Homo sapiens: one gene and its partners. The protein of the gene in region 1 purifies or fractionates together with the protein of each later gene. This does not show direct contact. Each region holds a gene or a part of one and is shown in the gene's direction. Other genes may lie near its edges.

Region 1 (7,028 bases):
CCAGCATAGTGGCTTGTGCGTGTAGTCCCAGCTACCCAGGAGGTTGAGGTGGAGGATCACTTGAGCTCGGGAGGCCAAGGTTGCAGTGAATGGAGATCCTGCCACTGCAATACAGCCTGGGAGACAGAGCAAGACTCTGTCTCAAAAAAAAAAGATGCTAGTTTACATCTGATCTTTGACAAACCTGACAAAAACAAGCAATGGAGAAAGGATTCCCTATTTAATAAATGGTGCTGGGAAAACTGGCTAGCCATATGTAGAAAGCTGAAACTGGATCCCTTCCTTACACTTTATATAAAAATTAACTCAAGATGGATTAAAGACTTAAATGTAAGACATAAAACCATAAAAACCCTAGAAGAAAACCTAGGCAATACCATTCAGGACATAGGCATGGGCAAAGACTTCATGACTAAAACACCAAAAGCAATTGCAACAAAAGCCAAAACTGACAAATGGGATCTAATTAAACTAAATTAGATGTACTTATGCACAGCAAAAGAAACTATCATCAGAGTGAACAGGCAACCTACAGAATGGGAGAAAATTTTTGCCGTCTACCCATCTGATAGAGGGCTAATATCCATAATCTACAAAGAACTTAAACAAGTTTACAAGAAAAAAACAACCCCATCAAAAAGTGGGCAAAGGATATGAACAGACACTTCTCAAAACACGACATTTATGCAGCCAACAGACACAGAGGAAATGCTCATCATCACTGGTCATCAGAGAAATGCAAATCAAAACCACAATGAGATACCATCTCACGCCAGTTAGAATGGCGATCATTAAAAATTCAGGAAACAACAGATGCTGGAGAGGATGTGGAGAAATAGGAACGCTTTTACACTGTTGGTGGGACTGTAAACTAGTTCAACCATTGTGGAAGACAATGTGGCGATTCCTCAAGGATCTAGAACTAGAAATACCATTTGACCCAGCAATCCCATTACTGGGTGTATACCCAAAGGATTATAAATCATGCTGCTACAAAGACACATGCACACGTATGTTTATTGCAGCACTGATTCACAGTAGCAGAGACATGAAACCAACCCAGATGTCCATCAATGATAGACTAGATTAAGAAAATGTGGCACATATACACCATGGAATACTATGCAGCCATATAAAAGGATGAGTTCATGTCCTTTGTAGGGACGTGGATGAAGCTGAAAACCATCATTCTAAGCAAACTAACACAAGGACAGAAAACCAACCACCACATGTTCTCACTCATAGGTGGGAGTTGAGCAATGAGAACACATGGACACAGGAAGGGGAACATCACACACCGGGGGGCCTGTCATGGGGTGGGGGCCTGGGGGAGGTATAGCATTAGGAGAAATACCTAATGTAAATGATGAGTTGATGGGTGCAGCAAACCAACATGGCACATGTATACCTATGTAATAAACCTGAACGATTTGCACATGTACCCTGGAATAATATACCCTAGTATAATATTTAAAAAAAATTGGTTTAAGAGAGGATTCTTCCTTTTTTTTAATTTTTTTCTGTATTTCAAAAGTATGTATAGTTTGTATTCCTGAAGTAGTACTTACGGATTATTCTCCTAATTATGTTATTTCAGTGATTTAGCATGTTTAATTCTGAATTGTAAATTTCCGTTATTGTAACTAGGACTTTCATTTCTTTCCCCAGCCATATCCTGCAAATGAGAGTTCTAAACTTGTCTCTGAGAAGGTGGATGACTATGAACATGCAGCAAAGTACATGAAGAACAGTCAAGTAAGGTTACCTTTGGTAAGTTTTAATTTATGAAAGTATTTTATAGAGAATGAAAAAAAGAACATGCTTATATGGAGACATAGGAAATGATTTCACTTGTTTACAATACTTAGGCTCACTGACTTACAAATCAGTTGTTTCCACTAAGTGATGTTGACTTGTTATAACCACAGAATATGGAATAAAATTTATTTCAATGGACTGAGAATGGAGTGCTATATCTAAGGCAATGAGGACAGTGAAAAAATTACAGGGTTGGTGTGCAAGTTCCCTGCTAATGTAGGCACCAATGAACCACAGCATTTCATACATAGAATGCAGCAGTCCAGGAATTTAAATGGGAAAAAATTACATCTTCACCTATACTAATTTCTGCGTAAAAGTTTACATTTTAAGAATGATTACTACAATAGTACCACAGTGGTATTAGCTGCTGCTGTGACTTTGTCATCAGTAGAAGTTACAGATATTTTCATAGCACATTTTTGCTAATATCTTAGAATATTGTTTTCATTTATCACATCTGGAAAAATGACATCACTAGAACTGCCACTAGATCTTGTTATTATAGTTAATGGTGTGTGCAAAGCAACACATATCTTTAATATTTTGATAGCTACATAAATATAATTTATTTCCTTTGTGTGATATGTACTTTATTTTGTTATTCCTTTGAAAAAACACAAAAATTGTATTTTTTCCACCAGTGCTGTTTGATATTTCAAGATAGGCCTTTTTTATTTTTTCATTTTCCAAATTAAGAATACAAGATAGGGCCGGGTACAGTGGCTCACGCCTGTAATCCCAGCACTTTGGGAGGCCGAGGCAGGTGGATCATGAGGTCAGGAAATCGAGACCATACTGGCTAACAGTGAAACCCTGCCTCTACTAAAAATACAAAAATTAGCTGGACGTGGTGACGGGCCCCTATAGTCCCAGCTACTTGTGAGGCTGAGGCAGGAGAATGGGGTGAACCCGGGAGGCGGAGCTTGCAGTGAGCCGAGATCGCAGCACTGCACTCCAGCCTGGGCGACAGAGCCAGACTCTGTCTCAAAAAAAAGAAAGAATACAAGATAGGCCGGGCGCAATGGCTCAACGCCTGTAATCCCAGCACTTTGGGAGGCTGAGGCGGGCGGATCACAACGTCAGGAGATTGAGACCATCCTGGCTGACACGGTGAAACCTCGTCTTTACTAAAAACGCAAAAAGTTAGCTAGGCGTGGTGGCGGGCACCTGTAGTCCCAGCTACTCGGCAGGCTGAGGCAGGAGAATGGCATGAACCCAGGAGGCAGAGCTTGCAGTGAGCCAAGATCACGCCACTGCCCTCCAGTCTGGGCGACAGAGCAAGGCTCTGTCTCAAAAAAAGAAAAAAAAAATAATACAAGATAGATGCATTTTCCAGTTACACACACACACACACACACACACACACACACACAATGCCCTCTTCACACACATTCACCCTTTGGATGAGAATTTGAGAATTTGGCAGGAGGATAAAAGTCTGAGAAGATGACTTTCAAAGTGAATCTCACCGATTTCTTTTATATGCTCAGGTCACAATATGATTAACAGTGAATCGAATGTGTATTTACAGTGAAGTTAGGGTCTTTTGGCCATCTCTGCCCATTATTTAGAAATAAGCATATGTTTACTTCCATATTGAATCTAAAATTTTCTTTTTCTCTTTTGTAATTTTAGGGAACCTTAAGTAAATCAGAATGGGAAGCTACAAGTGAGTATATCATCAGCATAGATTAACTGATAATTTCAAAAGTCCTGTTTCAAAGTGATCATTAAAACCTGAAAAAAGGCTGGGCACTGTGGCTCACACCAGTACTCTCAGTATTTTGGGATGCCGAGACAGACAGATTCCTCGAGCCCAGGAGTTGAGACCGGTCTGGGCAACATGGCAAATGCTTGTCTCTACCAAAAATACAAAAAAATTAGCCAGTCATGGTGGCATGTGCCTGTAGTCCAGCTACTCAGGAGGCTGAGGTGGGAGGATTCCTTGAGCCTGAGAAGTCAAGGCTGCAGTGAGCTGTGATTACATCACTGCACTCCAGTCTGGGCAACACAGCGAGACTCTCAAAAAAAAATCTGAAAACTTTGAGTTTTTCTGACATTTTAGGTTGTGTTTGTGTTTACACACACACACAAATACGTATATCTCTACATATGTCTAATCCTCCTTTCTTGCACAGCTGTGTAGTGCCAAGAGAAGATACACTGTACACAGGGTCTTCCTCAGCATAAACTTGAGTGAGCATGTGTAAACATTCTCATTGCCTATTTGTTACTAAGTAGCCATCTCCATTTGAAGTGTTTACCTCAGATTTCTACTGGAATTTTTGGCTTATAGAATACTTGCATGTCTTTTTTTTATTTGGCCACTCTGATGTGACAGTGAAGGCATAATAATACTAGAACATTCAATGAAACATCCATGAGCAGGATGTGTTAGAGGTGTGCATGATAGGGGACAAATGTGGTGCAAAGATATTCTGAAGTGAGGTTCCTGTGTTCAGAAGAGAAGCCAGAAGCACAGCAAATCTGTGAAGGCCTGTGGTTCTTCAGCAGTGGGTGTTGAGGAAGTCAGGTTGCAGAGCCTCATTGTTACTGTAGGAATCCCCTTACATGGTTGTTGGTGATGTTGAGGCACAAGTGGTCATTAAGGACAATCCATTTGATAAACATTATTGATTTACGTGAAGTTCTGTGAAAGGTAAAGTAAAATAAAGATGTTAAATCTCTACCTTCTAGAAGTCTACACTGTAATGGAAGGAACAGGCACAAATAAACACTACTAGGCAAATTTTTAAGTGCTAATGATACTGTAGTGGGGCACAAAGGTGAAAGAGAGCTTAATGAAAACTAAACTAATGACATCTGGGATGTAGTAATATTGATATTACTGAGTGTTGAACATGTGCAGGTGCGTGTAACGTTTTTAATCCTTGTAATAACTCACATGTTGTAACTCATTTAATCCTCACAATGACTTTATGAGTAGAGTATTATATCTCCTTTCACAGATGAGAAGACTAACAACTTAGCTAAGATCACAGAGCTAACCTGTGGTTAGCTTACCTAAGTGATCTGTCATTTTAACTATGGTTTCATGGAAGCCTGGCAAAAGGAAAATCTAGTAAGACTTCCTGAGTTGGATAGAGAAGAAGAGGAAAGGAGTCAAGCAAGACCAGTATTTTGAGGCTATTTGTCTTTGAACATTGGTACTATTACTAGAAATCGGACTGGAGGATGTTATACACATACGATCATGCTTGACACACTGGTGAGCATGTGCATAAACTATGGATTTTATTACTTTTTCCCTGCAGTGGAGACTGGTTGCCTGTCTTAGACATCCTGCTGGTCCCAAAGTAGAGTGTAAATTTTGATCACGAGTCATCATGATGGCGGTACTGGCTGTGGCTTAGAACTGTATTTTTATATTATTAAGTGTGGACTTTAGTCATCATGTACAAATGAAAAATTAGATGGCCCCAGACAATTGGAAGAGATGGGCTGGACATGCGAAGAGAGCAGTGGCCAAATTGCACCTCGGGTGTAGCACCCCAGGATTGTTTGGCTGTTTGATGAATTGCTCTGTTCTAAGCTAGAGGGCTTCGTGGGTTGAGCGTATTTTGCATGCCATCACGAGTCTAAAAGGCCCAGGCTACATTTTAGACTTCTACTGGTCTGATCATTAAGCTATCACCAGAGCTGCTGCTCCTCTAGAAGATGGCTTTAAATGAGAAAGGAGAGAATTGCTATTGATTTATTTCTGGAAGTGGAAGTGGTTCACGATTTGATTTTTTTAAATCCCAATTGAAATGCCTGCATAGAAGGCATTTTATACAATAAGTGGGACTTTTTAGGAGTTTCAAGTTAGAAAGAAAGTTGCTATTATGTATTGAAAATCAGACTCTAGCATGTTAGTGGTTTCAAATGACCCTAAATGAGGACAGGACAGGACTGAGGGGTTGTTTGCAATTGCTATGGGTGTGTGGGGGGTGGGATTTGGCAGGGCTGGGCTGCACAAAGGTCACACAGAGTGGGGGACAGCATGAGTGATACTGGCCAGCTGTGAGTGCTGACATGCTGTGCACGCTGATGTGTTGCAAGTGCTGGGGACTGCTTTGTCTCCTTACCTTCTGGCAAGAACCACAGAATTGATGAACACCCTGCCTGTTTTCTGTCCTATCGCTGTGCTACTAGCCACATTTCATTTCAACTAAAAGAAATTGGAAACCGGTAAATAAGGTGACCAAAGTAGTATTTTGGAAAAACTGCTATGGTGTTCCTGTACAAGTTGGGTTGGAAGAGCAAGAAGCTGGAGTCTTGGGAGGCCATCAGGCAGTTAGCTGTGTTCATCTACCCTCCCTTCAAAAGAAGTCATCTCAAGGAGTGAGGCCTCCAGCTTAGATGGACTTGATCTTGACTCACTGTTGAGTATCCTAGCACATGCCCCAAACATCCTTGTGATGTTTGCAGGATTTGTCACCTTTGCAGGTATTTTCTTGCCCTAAAATCTATTGGTATTTTATTAGAAGATATACAGGCATACCTTGGAGATACTGCAAGTTCAGTTCTAGACCACCACAATAAAGCAAGTCACTCAGATTTTTTGGTTTCCCAGTGCATATAAAAGTTATGTTTACTGTAGTCTGTTAAGTGTGTAGTAGTGTTGTGTCTGAAAACCATGTACATACCTTAATTTAAAAATACTTCATTGGTAAAAAAATGCTGATGATCATCTGAACCTTCAGTGAATCTGAATCTTTTCTGCTTGGTGAAGGGTCTTTCCTCCATGGCGGAAATACTCTTGATGGATGGTGGTTGCCGAAGATTGGTGTGGCTGTGGCAGTTAAGACAATGAAGTTTGCCTCATTGATTGACCATTCTTTCACAGAAGATTTCTCTGTAGCATGCAGTGCTGTTTGATAGCGTTTTACCCACTGTAGAACTTATTTCTAAATTGGAGTCACTCCTCTGAAACCCTACTGGTCTTTATCAACTAAGTTTTTGTAATATTAATATTCGAAATCCTTGTCATTTCAACAATGTTCCCAATGTGTTTACCAGAAGTAGATTCTATCTCAAGCTCATCCATAAGAAGCAGCTCTTCATTTGTTCAAGTTTGATCATGAGATTGCAGCAATTCAGTCACATCTGCAGGCTCCACTTCTAATTCTGGTTCTCTTGTTGTTGCCATCCCGTCTGCAGCTACTTCCTCCACTGATGTGTTGAACCCCTTGAAGTCATGCATG
Region 2 (7,028 bases), on another chromosome or scaffold:
ATTTATAGTGTTATTTGTTTGTTTGTTTTTTGGCATCTTTGTTTCTTTGTGCTTTTTTTGTTTTGTTTGTGGTTTGTCTTAATCACTTTAATGTTGGAGGCTGTCTTCATTTATCTGGTGATTTTTGAACAAATTTCGGAAGAAACTAAAAACTGATTGGAAATGAGTGTATAAATGGACTTCATTGTAGGATAATTGGGCAGCAAAACCATATTTTCTTAGAGGAACACTAAATTTCAGTCTCTTTTGTGAGACCATTCAGTTTTTTTAGAGACAGATTTTGCATTCTTTTGCTGGAAGATGGGTAGATTGGGTTGAGGTATAGAGTAGGTAACATACCTGGCTACTACATATCCTGCAGCTGGGCACTGTGTCTCATGCTGTAATCCTAGCACTTTGGGAGGCTGAGGTGAGAGGATGGTTTGAGCCCAGGGGTTCGAGGCCAGCCTGGGCAACATTGTAAGAGCCTGTCTCTACAAAAAAATTTAAAAAATTAGCTGACTGTGGTAGCACATGCCTGTACTCCCAGCTACTCAGGAGGCTGAGATGGGGAGGATTGCTTGATCCTGGGAGGTTGAGACAGCAGTGAGCTGTGATCATGCCACTGCACCTTGAGCTTGGGCAACAGAGCAAGACCCTGTCTCAAAAATAAAAAATACAAATAATAAACATCTGGGAACTGAGTATTGGGAAAGAGCTAGAGGTTTTCACTAGTCAGTATGCAGACTTACACTTATCTCCTACTTTCTAGTCTAGTGCTTCATTTCAACCTCCACTGTGCTTTATATCCCAAAGTTCTGTTTCTGTGATTCACATTTTGTTGTCCAGTTTCTCCTTCAAATAAACTTCCAGTCTTTGGTAGCATTGAGAATGCTAGTCACCTACCTTTGTAGTAGGGACCCAAAGTCTATCCTGCTTCTTATCAGATTTTTAACCTCTTCCTCTACTTTAGCACCGTTTCCCCTGCTGTCTGTGATACCTGGTTCCTCTGATTTCTAAGCATTTGGAGTTGATGGTGGGGAGATAAATTAGCTTTCCTCTTATTGGTAGTTCCCTCTCCTGGCATTAAGCTTCCACTTTTCTCCCCTCTTCTAAGTCGGTTACTGTTTCTTTATTCACTTTTGTCTTTATATATTGTGGGCAGGATTATTAATGTCTACTGGCCTTTTCAAAGTTGGAATTTGTATTTCTGTTTCTTTTTTTTTTTCCTGAGAAGATACTGGGGCAGAAATGTTTTTACTTTGCTCACTTAATACTGGAAATAGGTATTAGTTCATTGTTTTTTAACTCAGCGAAAAGGTATATGTCAGCTATATTAATTTTTTTAAACATACTTTATATTTGCTTCAAAAACCCGATATTTGGCTGGGTGTGGCGGCTCATGCCTGTTATTCCAGCATTTTGGGAGGTTGAGGTGGGTGGATTGTTTTGAGCACAGGAGTTCTAGACCAGCCTAGGCAACATGGTGAAACCCTGTCTGTACAAAAATTAGCTGGGCATGGTGGCTCACACCTATGATCCCAGCTACTCAGGAGGCTGAGGCTGGAGGATTGCTTGAGCCCAGGAAGCAGAGGTTGCACTCCAGCCTGGGCAACAGAGTGAGACCCTGTCTCAAAAACAAAACAAAACAAAAAACGAAAAACAAACCCTGATTTCTCTGTTCAAGGAAGAGGTGGTTGGCAAGGGTGGAAGCTTGATTGCTGGAGAAGGATCCAGTTGTGCTGATTTTATTTGCCCACTAACAGATAGACATACCTATTATGTAAGCTAACTGATTTGTGTACATGAGTCCTAGGGTCATCTTTAGATGGTAACTACTTCCAGAAAATGTGGTATATATTCTGATAATCTTGAAAATCATCTTTAGAGGACAGGCCCAGCAGAGATGGTAACTGCTTTCAGAAGAGGATAGTTTATATGCTGATAATCTTGAAAATCATCTTTAGAGGACAGGCCCAGCAGAGATGGTAACTGCTTTCAGAAGAGGATCGTTTATATACTGATATTCTTTAAAATAGGGGTAAAGAGAAAAGTCATCTAAAATATTAGAACATTTAAGAAAAATGTCATCACTTTTTATTTGTGAGATACATAACATATAACATAGTTCTTTTTTTTTGTTTTTTAGTAGAGATCGGGTTTCTCCATGTTGGTCAGGCTGGTCTCGAACTCCTGACCTCAAGTTATCTACCCGCCTCGGCCTCCCAAAGTGCTGAGATTACAGGCATGAGCCACCGTGCCCAGCTTAACATACTTCTTAACTGAGGAGAAAGACTAAGGGATATGTTAGGTTGCTTATTTTAAAAAAACAGCTTTAAGGAACATAGCATCAATAGTGATCATGGGAATTTAAAAAAAGCCAACATTTGAGTGCCTACTCTATGTCAGGCACTGTTCTTAGGTGCTACATGCCTTCTTATCAGTGTAATAGTTTATTAATGACTTCCACTTGAGTACCCTTCACAAATATATTTATTTTTGTACTTTCTGTACCTTAGTTCCTCAAATGATTATTAGATTTATTTCCAGTTAAGTACATGTAATGAGTACAGTGAGGCTCATTAAAGTTAGATTATATTCTGTGATCATCATATCAAACACTTAACTGGAACATTTGAACTTCTCAGTTTTGGTATGCTTTTTTTGTGGGGGTGTGTGTGATTTAGACACAGACAAGAGATCTCAAATATTTTACTATTTTTTAAAACAAATTTAACTACATATCTTATTCAATATAACATAATAGTAGTCATAATCAGCTTCATATTCATACATCTGATTATAATTTTAAAACAATATAAATTTTCTGGTATTTTTATAACATTAAATTTTTGTTTTAAAATGAATTTCTATATTTTTCTAAGGAAACTTGGTTTTAAATAGAGAAAAAATTTAAATATGCTCTTTCTTCCCTTACAGGTTTCACCTTGCTTAAATGTCCTGTCACGACTGTTGTTTAGCAGTGACCCAGATGTGTTAGCAGACGTGTGTTGGGCCCTTTCTTATCTCTCCGATGGACCCAATGATAAAATTCAAGCAGTCATTGATTCTGGAGTCTGTCGAAGATTGGTGGAACTTTTGATGTAACTATAAATAATTTATGCTTAATAATTGTATGATTGAGATTAAAATTAGCAATTCAAGTAATAGCTTTGTAAATATCTCAAGAGTCACTGTCTTCAGGGAAAATTAAAAAGCTACTGACCCAACACTTAACAGAATAGCCATAATCCTAGAAAGTTGACCCTAAAATTTGGAACTTATGTCCTATAGTTGGAACTAATTATTTTGTAAATGAATTTCCTTAGTTTAATGTGATCTCTTTATGAATTAGATAAACTTAATAAGTATTTATGGAATGCCTGTTATCTGCTAAGGTGTTGTGTGAGACATTAATGAAGTATAGAACACAGTTTCTCCTCTCACAGAACAAATAATCTAGTTTATTATTCATTATAATAATTAATTTGAGTAAAAGTCCATGTAGTGAAAATCATTTAGTATTTCACCTCTATTAAAGATAACATGTTTCTCTTTGCTGGGCTGTTATAGCTATTTTCCTTAAAAAGAACAGCTTTTCTATACAAAGAAGTTAAAAACGTTGAAGAAAACTTGTTTTAAAAAGATGTTGTAACTTCATAACTTCATCTACTTACCCTCTTTAAAAAATGTATTATCTTCCTTCCTTTCTTCTTTTGTCGAGAAGCCATTGTAGGCCCAAACAAGGTAGATGGCACAAAGATAGGTCTGATAAGGAGTTGGGGGTCCCAGCATGAGGATAGCATCAGTGGAGGGTGGGCATGCAGGTTCAGCATGGGGGATCAGGGCCCCAACTTGATAATGACACCCACTGGGGTGAGCAGATAAGCAGGCTGGAGCAGGACTTGGAGCCAGCACATCATGGGGTACCAGTCTGGCTGAGGTAAAAGATTGGCTGATATAGGGAGGTTAGGAAAATAGAAGCTATTTCCTGTTATCGGAGAATAGAGATAAAAATATAGAAGAGGAGAAAGCCTGAATAATTTAATTATTTTAGATTAGAACTAGAAATATCAGTGTGAACTCATGGCTCTTAACATAGCTAGGTATGGAAATAAATATATACATGTGTGTAGGTATGTGTGTGTGCATCCTCTTGAAGGGCATGGGAACAGTAACACTTCTACATTAATAAGCTGAGGAAACTGAAGTTCAAATCGAAGTTTCTAAACACTACTCTCCATTGAAAGGAACCAAGATTGTTGGAGAAATGACTGGTTTCAGGACTGGGACTGAGAAAAATGTAAGATGAATGCAGGAAGTAATGAGTGCTCAAGTAATGGACAGATGTCAAAAGAACACAGAAGCCTATTTGAAGGGGTTCTCACTATCCAAACCTGGGACAGTTTGTGCTTTGAAATAAATTGCATTAATGTATATTTTATTGAATAAAATATGAAACCCATAAGTCCACACTAAAGCATGTAGTTAGAATGATAGTATTAGAAATACATCACTGGTAATAATACTAATAATTACCAATACTTCAGATAATAAGCATCAAGAGATGCTAAAATCTAGTGGTAAAGTAGGTTAAGGAGTGGGATTTTGCATTATCTCAAAGTATTTTGTTGCAAAATATTAATTATATTAATTATAAATGGGAAAACAATAATGGTAAAATGGAAAAGTCTGGCAGACATCATCATAATTAGTGACCAGAATTCAGTACCAATATAATGGGAAAAAACAGATTGGGATATAATGAAAAGGTTATAGCACTTACGATATCCCCCAGCCAAAGTATATAACCTGGGTCTTAATCATGAAAAACATTGGATAAACCCAAATAATGGGCTTATGATCTTCAAAAATGGCAAAATCATGAAAATTAAGGGAAGACTGAGAAATCATTCTGGAGAGACATGAAAACTGGCTGTAATGAACGATCCTGGATTAGATCCTTTGTTATAAAGATTATCAGAATAATTAGTAAAACTTCAATGGGATCTTTGGCTGAACACCCCGCAGGAGTTTGTAGTATTTTTGTAACTTCTGTGTAAATTTTAAATTCTTACTAGTATTTAGGTTCATGTTTTTATTATTTTTAGGCACAATGATTATAAAGTTGTATCACCTGCATTAAGGGCAGTTGGTAATATTGTGACTGGTGATGATATTCAAACACAGGTGAGTTCAAACTTGAGTATCATAAATTGTTAACATAAAGGACTTTAAAAAATTTATGTTTCATACAACTTGATTACATATTAATCAAGATTTTAGCATCACCATAATTGTGTGTGTGTCTGTATCTGTGTCTTGGAGGATGGTGAGATGTCAAAGAAGATGTGCTGTCAAGATTGACTCCAGCCAGATTTGGGTTACAATCTTTTTATTTATTTAGTAAGTTAGTTTAGTTAGAGACAGGATATTGCTCTTTCTCCTAGGCTGGGGTGCAGTGGTGTGATCATGGCTCACTGCAGCCTTTACCTCCCTGGCTTAAGCAGTCCTCCTGGCTCAAGCAGTCCTCCCGCCTCAGCCTTCCAAGTAGTTGGGACTGCAGGTGTGCACCACCACACCTGGCTAATTTATTTATTTATTTATTTTTTAGGGACAGGGTCTTGCTATGTTGCCCAAGTTGGTCTCAAATTCCTGAGCTCAAGTGATCCTCCTGCTTTGGCCTCTCAAAGCGTTAGACTTACAGGCATGAGCCAGTATGTCCAGCACAATCTTTCTTGAAGATAGAAACTTAAATTATTTAACACGTTAGATTCTCCTTTGTTTACCGCCTTACAGTGTATTTTTTATTCTAACCTACATATTTTCTTTCAGTTTTATCCTTTTAAAGGCCTATTTGGATACTAATCATAGTTATTAAATAGTTGCTCTTTAGTAATTGACAGTTATTCATTTAATATAGCTCTTGAAATGAAAATGCCATTCTAGACATATACTGTAATTTTCAGTTGGATTTCCAGTGCACTGCTCCACACTTCTTCACCAGATGAATTTAATGTAAATCATTGGAGTATTTTGAATATAGGAACATAATTAATCTTGCAATGGAATAAAGAATGTAAAGGGACAATGCAGAATATACTTGTTTACAGAAGAAGAGTAAGATAGTAAAAATTTTTATGAAGCCAATTGATTCTACATGCTGTTTTTAATGGTTGTAGAATTGGATTTTCTCAGACTGTATGATATATGTATTTTTTTCACCAATTCATTTGGCAAAACTAGAGGTTGGATCCTGACCTCGGTCACCAAATCTTTTTTCAGTTTTATCAGTTGAACTCTGAGAACATTTGTAAATATGAAGGATACACCTCTGATTTTCATTTTATTGGGTTGAGAACAGGGCAGTTCCTTATAGTGGCAGGAGACTAGGTTTATCAATAGCAGACGTGTAGAAGACAGCAAGTTTTACTTTGGGAGGAATTTCTCCTTTCTTAATTTCACTTTCTAGAATGGGTTTTGTACATCTAAATAATTCATTAGTAGATTTTCATATAGGTTATTTACTATAAAACTTTTTGTTTCCATTTCTAACTTGTTTTAGGTAATTTTGAATTGTTCTGCATTACCCTGTCTCTTACATTTATTGAGTAGCCCAAAGGAGTCAATTAGAAAAGAAGCCTGCTGGACTGTTTCTAACATCACTGCTGGAAATAGAGCTCAGATTCAGGTAACTACCCTTCAGATCTGAGAGTAGAACAGCAAGGTCTAAGAAGCCAGTTTGGACAAAAGTTAACACTTTTACTAAAAAAGATTCCTTTTTAAAAAGATACCGAAAAAGTATTTTAAAGAACATGGGCTTTCCTCCTCTAAAATAATAACATTTACTTGTAGTATTCTAGTGAAGAACATCAAGTGTGTGTGTGTGTGTGTGTGTCTAGCACAGTGCCTGACACATAATGGTTTGTCTTTAGAAAGATATTTTTTTGCATTAGTTTTAAATAAGTTATGCAATAATCTTCCTCTCAAAGCTTTTAATGATTTATTAGGGTTCTATCAAGCTTCTTGTGTCAGTGATTACTTATCCA
Region 3 (7,028 bases), on another chromosome or scaffold:
TTTTTGTATTTAATATTAATATTAATATTTAATGCCTTTACAATATTTAATGCCTTTACAGAATTTTTATTTAATATTCTCTGATTTTTGGATACCAACAAAAGGTACTTTTTTTTTTTTTGAGATGGAGTCTCGTTCTGTCACCCAGGCTGGAGTGCAGTGGTGCGATCTTGGCTCACTGCTGCAACCTCCACCTCCCGGGTCCAAGCAGTTCTCCTGCCTCAGCCTCCTGAGTAGCTGGGATTACAGGCGCCTGCCACCATACCCAGCTGATTGTTTGTATTTTTAGTAGAGACTGTGTATTTTTAGTTTCACTATGTGGGCCGGGCTGGTCTTGAACTCCTGACCTCGTGATCCTCCCGCCTTGGCCTCCCAAAGTGCTGGGATTACAGGCATGAGCCACTGCAGCTGGCCAACAAAAAGTAAATTTTAAAGGCTCTGGTGAGAATTCTGGACCTTCTTTTGGGGCTTTATATGTAAGCTAGGATACTTTTGCAGGAAGGTAACAGGAACTCTGACTCAATCTGGCTCAAACAATAGGAAAACTTATTTCACACATTAGGATGTCCAAAAGTAGGGATGAATTTAGGGCAAGTTGACCAAGTGGCTCAACAGTGTTACCAGGGATCCATATTCTTTCCATCTCTGCTCTGTCCACTTTAGTGTAGTGGCAACTAGTCCAGCTCTCACATACAGAGAAACGAAGTTTTCTTGTGATTTGCTCAGAACTCCCCCTAACCCCCACATCCTATCACTGGTCAGAATTGGTTTTTCATTCCCAAGAGTGATGGATTACCATGATGGTTTCATTATTGGTTCTTAACGGGGCTTCATATGTCACTTCAGAGTGTGGGGAAGCATTTAAAATTCCCATGCCTGAATCCCATTCTAATAGATTCTGATTCTGAAGGCATGGACGTTGGGATTTTCAAAAAACTTCCCAAGTGATTCTAATGTACAGCTTGGGGTGAGAATCTCTAGTTGGACTTACAATGGGCAGCATGGATTTGAGGAGTTAACTACAATGTTACTAGCACATCTGTTTTAAAAATTTGGCTAAAATCCTTCTAAAATGTGTTTACATTTATTTCTCAAACAGATATCATGGCTATATTTTTGGTTTCTACAAGTGGCATCATGAACCTGCTGAATTCCAGGCTAAAACCCAGGTTCAGCAACTTCTTGTCTCAATCACCCTTCAGTCAGAGTGTGATGCTTTCCCCAACATATCTTCAGATGAGTCTTGTAAGTACCTATGCAATGTGAGTGTATTATATCCCAGGTGCTCGCTGACGGACTTAAGTGCCAAAAACTGACTCCATGCTAGGAACCACTGAGTTCTCAACCAGTGAGTTTATGATTCCTATTTTAAAAATAACCTTTAAAGTCTGATTATAAAAGTAGTACATAGTCTTTGTGGAAAATTTATTAAGTACAGTAAGTGCAGAAGAAGAAATAAATCACTCATAATCCCAGCAGATAGAATTAATCACTGTCATTTTAGGTGTATTTTTTTGCAGAGTAAAACATGTAAACATTTTACATAGACATAAATACAAACATGATAAGCATTGACATGAAAATGGCAGTAATTCTGTACATGTGCTTCTTGTATTTTTGTTGTATTTTTATATCATGCTTTTTTGCAAAATACATTATAAATTAAACATGAATTTCACTAGTTTTCTGTGATATCATTTTCAATGGCTGAATAATGTTCTGTCACTATATGGATGAGCTGACTTGGGTAATCTCTTTTGGACATCTAGGTAATTTCTTAACTTTTTGTCTTTGAAAACATCTGTATCCATGATCTCTATTTATAATCTAATTTTACAGAAAGATAATGCAGAGCTAGGGGAGAGGGTGGGTACAGCAGTTTCATTTGTAATCTGCTGTACAATATAATCAACATTTAGCTGTATGATTTTGTCCTCGTTGTTGCCTAAAACGTTATTCTCTAGGGCTTTTCCCAAATTGTTTTAGAACAAATAAGTGGGCGTGCCATTTCTATAGGGTATACTGCCTGAGAATAATGTGGAATTGCACCAAGGAATCAAAGAAGGGCAGTATAAGGACATGTGTAATATAAGATTCGTGCAAGAAAGAGCAGACAGGGGAACTAAGTGTAAAGATAGAGGCTGGACGCTGTGGCTCATACCTGTAATCCCAGCACTTTGGGAGGCTGAGGTGGGTGGATCACTTAAGGCCAGGAGTTCAAGACCAGCCTGGCCAATATGCTGAAACTGCATCCCTACTAAAAAATACAAAAAGTTAGCCAAGCGTGTTGGTGCGTACCTGTAATCCCAGCTACTCGGGAGGCTGAGGCAGGAGAATCACTTGAACCCAGGAGGCAGAGGTTGCAGTGAGCTGCAATCATGCCGCTGCACTCCAGCCTGGGGGACAGAGTGAGACAGTCTCAAAAAAAAAAAAAAAAAAAAAAAAAAAAAAAAAAAAAAAAAAAAAAAAAAGATAGGATGCCACAAATTTAGAGAAAAGAGCAACTCCATTACCCCCAGACTGCCTCACAGTTAAGTACATGTCTTCATCCTGCTGGTTTAGATGAGATTTCTCAATAATACATCTCTTTGAAAAAAAGCTTTCTTTCTCTTCAATTCCATAGCTGTTCTTAGAAGAGAAATAGGAAAATTCACCAACATCAGGTATCATTTCAATTGATACTCAGCACTCAGACACCATGTGAAGTAGGTTTTGCAACCTGAATTGAGATGGAAATGGTCATTACGTTGCCAAGGAATCTTTGCTGTCCATTGGCAATACAGATAACAGATTGTAAATTCCACAAAATGAAATGTATCGAGACTAGAGAGTCATAGCTTATCTTTCAGTCAGTTCTACAAACCCTCTTTATTCTGAAAGGGAAGTTTCTTGAGACAAGGTTATTGTGAAATTTTCAGCTGAAGAATAAACTAGTTTTTAGTCTTTAAACTAGTTGATGATGATGATAAAAGTAACACATATGAATGGAAATAACAAGATATCAAATGTCCAGAGTGGGAGGACATGTTGGAGGAGGTGACACATGTTAAAGCACCACTATTTATTAAAAATAAAAATATGCATGCCCTGAGAAGTGGACTAGTTTTTACTGCAGATAAATGGACACATAAATCAAGGATGTTTGATGCAGTTTGCCTGTAATGTGAAGAACTGTCAATAAAACTCAATGTCCATCAATAGAGGAATGGCTAAATACATCTTGTCAATCTATACTAAACAGTATAATCACAACAGTTAAGAATAAAGAAGCAGTATTACTGAGAACACACATGGAGAACTGACAAGATAAACTGCTGAGTTGAACAAAGGAAGCTGTATAATTATGTGTAGAGGTGGACCCTGTTTATATATCAACACACGTGCAGGAACACACGCATAAAGCAATACTATATTTTCTCCTTCCGTGTACATCTATGTCAAGCCTAAGAAAATGCCCGATAAGTATTTCCTCTGAGGAAGGTAGAGGGAGTTAGGTGAGTATCTCAAAGGAGATTTTAGCCTTATCTATATTATATTGCTTTTAAACAGAATATATAGATATGTCATTTGTATATTCACCCTCCAAAACAAATGTATTTATGGTGCAAAAAGATACAGAATGGGCTAACTGAAAAGTCAATGATATAATTCCTTTCACACTTCAGGGAAGTGATCATTGTTAACACTAATAACTTGGTTGTGAAGTAAAAATGGAAATTCTATAGCTATGTGTCCATATATTTAGAAAACCAAATTTCTAATTGTTATATGTATTTTCCACTGAGTTGAATTACAGTCCTGTTTAATATCAGCCAGTTGTCAACTATTAGAAAATAATTGGTATCAAATATATGCAATATATTAATGTTTTTTAGGTGACTGTGCTATTTCTGGAAGATCTCAAAACTAGAATGTGGCAAAAAAATGTTTTTAAACAGTGACCAATGGAGCAGTGAGCTCTAGGTAGCTGATTAAGAATTTGATACAGGCTGGGTACAGTAGCTGACACCTGTAATCCCAACACTTTGGGAGGCTGAGGCCGGTAGATGGCTTGAGCCCAGGAGTTCAAGACCAGCCTGGGCAACATGGCAAAACCCTGTCTCTACAAAAAAAAAAAAAAAAAAGAAAGAGAAAAATTAGCCAGGCGTGGTGGCACATGCCTACAGTCCCAGCTACTTGGGAGGTCGAGGCTGCAATGAACCGTGATTGTGCCACTCCACTCCAGCCTGGGCAGCACAGTGAGACTCTGTCTCAACAACAACACAAGAATTTGCTATAGATGTAGAGGAAACATAATTAGACTATGCTCATAAATAGCAATATAGTTCTTAGCCTGGCATTGGCTAACTCATCTAATGGAGTGTGGTTATCTAATGGAAAAGGCTATCTTGTCAGAAGACTATCACCTGAGATGCTCACACTACTGATAGAGCACTTTTGCCTACCTGCAGCTAACTATTCTGTGAGCATCTGAATGGTGGTGGTGGTAGAAGGTGATAAACCACCCCAGAGGACACAGTATTAAATCATTAATCTCCAGCCCATCAGTGTCTTTGCCGTGGCAAAGTCCAAAGCTGTTACACCCTTTAGCTTTCAATCTCTTTACCATCTGTGGGTTTACTATGTGGTTGATTCCACTCCAGACCTCTCTAAAAGACTAAATGACTATTGGGCCAACCTTAGAGTGTGCTTCAAAGATTGAAAGATTAGCCTCTCACCAGAAGCAGCTAACTGGAGTCCCATTCTGGATGATGTGAACTTTTAATTGAGTGGGACAAAGCTGAATTATTTTTATTGAGTGAGACAAAGCTGAACTAAGCTAAAGGGATTTGGAGAGTAAGTCTTAAGGCAGATTTGGATGATACTGAGGGAAGGTGGGTACAGGGCAAGTAGAAAATTCTGAATGCAAAAGAGTGGAGATACTCTCTGGCCTTAAAGGGAGTAGATTTGAGCGACACCTAGGGCGTTACCAAGGATTAGTAGGAACTGAGGAATGTTTGCACTTTCAACTAAACTCTTAGCTTAACTAGGACCCTACTCTGTTGAGGAGAAGTTGGAGAGACTAACTCTTTTAGGAAAATGAGGAAACATGGAGTTGACACCCAAATTCCCGTTCTGAGTGACTCAAGTGACTGGATGGTGGTGCTGTGACTCACTGAAATGAGGAACACAGAAGACCAGCAGGTTGAAGTGTGCGGAGGAGGGAGGGAAGAGTTCTGTTGGGGCATGTGGAGTCGAAGGAACCTGCAGGACATCCAAATGGAGATGTACAGGAGGCAGTTAGAGAAATAGGTCATGTGCTTGGGAGAAAATAATAGTCCAGAAATATCAATGACATGTTTAGGAAACTTATTGTGTGTCATTGAGGGATTAACAAAAGTGTGTGTGTGATTTTAAATCCTCAATACAGATACTTTACTTGTGAAAGAACCAGTGGCTGTCCTTAAGGCCAACAGAGTTTGGGGAGCATTACGAGGTAAGTTCCATGCAGTTTCATTGTTACTTTCCAGTAAAGGAAAATTTTCAGTTGGTGCTTTGTGAAATTAAGCACAGCAAAACTTTGCCGCCTTAGATCCTTTACAGAATGCTTTGTTATGTAGTTCCAAAATGATTTCCATTGAACATGTACTACATAAAGCATGGGAGAGGTCAGCACAGTGGCTCACGCCTGTAATCCCAGCACTTCGAGAGGCTGAGGTAGGTGATGATTGCCTGAGCTCAGAAGTCTGAGACCAGCCTGGGCAACATGGTGCAACTCCATCTCTACAAAAAGTACACAAATTAGCCAGGCATAGTGGTGTGGACCTATAGTCCCAGCTACTCTGGAGGCTGAGGTGGGAGGATTGCTTGAGTCCAGGACGTTGAGGCTGCAGCGAGCCTAGATCACACCACTGCATTCCAGGCTGGGCAACAGAGCAAGACCCCTGTCTCAAAAAAATACAAATAAATAAATACAGCATGGGAGAAAACTCATTTGACCTCTCAAAAAATGTTTGAAGGTTATTACATTCCTGCAGTGCTGTAATTCATTGATGCTCTTGGGACTGTAATGTTTATAGCACTACACATGGCCCCAACCTGTCCTGATTAGGGAATTTTGTTTCAGCTATCACTTCTGTTGACTTCAGAAGCAAGCATCTCTCTTCCCTAATTTTAAATTCCTGTAGATTTAGAAACATAACTAAGTTTGTATAAGGAACAGTGTCAAAAGGCAAATATGCTATAGAGTTGGTTAGAGGCAGTGGGCAGGGAGTAACTTGAAAAGCTTCTCATGAGAATTTCAGAGTCTGAACTTCAAAGTTTGACCTCAGGACATTTGCTGTTCAAAAGTTTCTTTTACCTTTCTTTCTAGGCAGATAAGATACTGTACTGACTTCCGAATAGCAGAGTTTTTAGAAAGGGAATTTAAAAAAACATGAACTAACCAAACTTAGTCATTAAAATAAAGGCTTGGGATTGATCATAGTCACTCACACCTGTAATCCCACCACTTTGGGAGGTTGAGGCAGGCAGATCACTTGAGGTCAGGAGTTCGAGACCAGACTGGCCAACATGGTGAAATCCCATCTCTACTAAAAATACAAAAAAAAAATGAGCCAGGCATGGTGGCGCATGCCTGTAATCCCAACTACTTGGGAGGGTGAGGCAGGAGAATTGCTTGAACCTGGGAGAGGGAGGTTGCAGTGAGCTGAGCTGGCACCACTGCATTCCAGCCTTGGTGACAGAGCAAAACTCCATCTCAAAAAACAAAATAAATAAAGATTTGGAATCTGACTCAGAGTGTTACCTAAAATAATCATTGTTATGCTATATATTTTATACCATAAGATTATAATTTTATTCAAAATAGAATATGAAAATATCTAGATATTTACTACAAATGTAATTTTATTTATGTATAATATTAGTGATTTTAAGCTTTTATTAGTCCAATCTGCCTGTCTCATCTGCGTCTGCTAAGGAGAAGAGACGCTTTTTTTTTTTTTTTTTTTTGAGACAGAATCTTGCTCTGTTGCCCAGGCTGGAGT

The links. The genes of interacting proteins can lie anywhere in the genome.
Region 2: the proteins of RNMT (region 1) and KPNA5 purify together in Homo sapiens (co-immunoprecipitation; 3 studies listed by BioGRID and IntAct, with this or other methods). This does not show direct contact.
Region 3: the proteins of RNMT (region 1) and HEXB purify together in Homo sapiens (affinity purification with mass spectrometry; 2 studies listed by BioGRID, with this or other methods). This does not show direct contact.

The regions. Positions count from the first base shown.
Region 1 is NC_000018.10:13,750,658-13,757,685, forward strand, and holds part of RNMT (mRNA cap guanine-N(7) methyltransferase), read left to right. Parts: intron 1-1,668; coding exon 1,669-1,770; intron 1,771-3,456; coding exon 3,457-3,490; intron 3,491-6,556; coding exon of another isoform or gene 6,557-6,702; exon of another isoform or gene 6,703-7,028. UniProt on the Homo sapiens protein: Catalytic subunit of the mRNA-capping methyltransferase RNMT:RAMAC complex that methylates the N7 position of the added guanosine to the 5'-cap structure of mRNAs. Binds RNA containing 5'-terminal GpppC.
Region 2 is NC_000006.12:116,719,207-116,726,234, forward strand, and holds part of KPNA5 (importin subunit alpha-6), read left to right. Parts: intron 1-2,919; coding exon 2,920-3,083; coding exon of another isoform or gene 3,084-3,087; exon of another isoform or gene 3,088-4,118; intron 4,119-5,090; coding exon 5,091-5,169; intron 5,170-6,544; coding exon 6,545-6,670; intron 6,671-7,028. UniProt on the Homo sapiens protein: Functions in nuclear protein import as an adapter protein for nuclear receptor KPNB1. Binds specifically and directly to substrates containing either a simple or bipartite NLS motif.
Region 3 is NC_000005.10:74,688,229-74,695,256, forward strand, and holds part of HEXB (beta-hexosaminidase subunit beta isoform 1 preproprotein), read left to right. Parts: intron 1-1,099; coding exon 1,100-1,245; intron 1,246-5,410; coding exon 5,411-5,476; intron 5,477-7,028. UniProt on the Homo sapiens protein: Hydrolyzes the non-reducing end N-acetyl-D-hexosamine and/or sulfated N-acetyl-D-hexosamine of glycoconjugates, such as the oligosaccharide moieties from proteins and neutral glycolipids, or from certain mucopolysaccharides.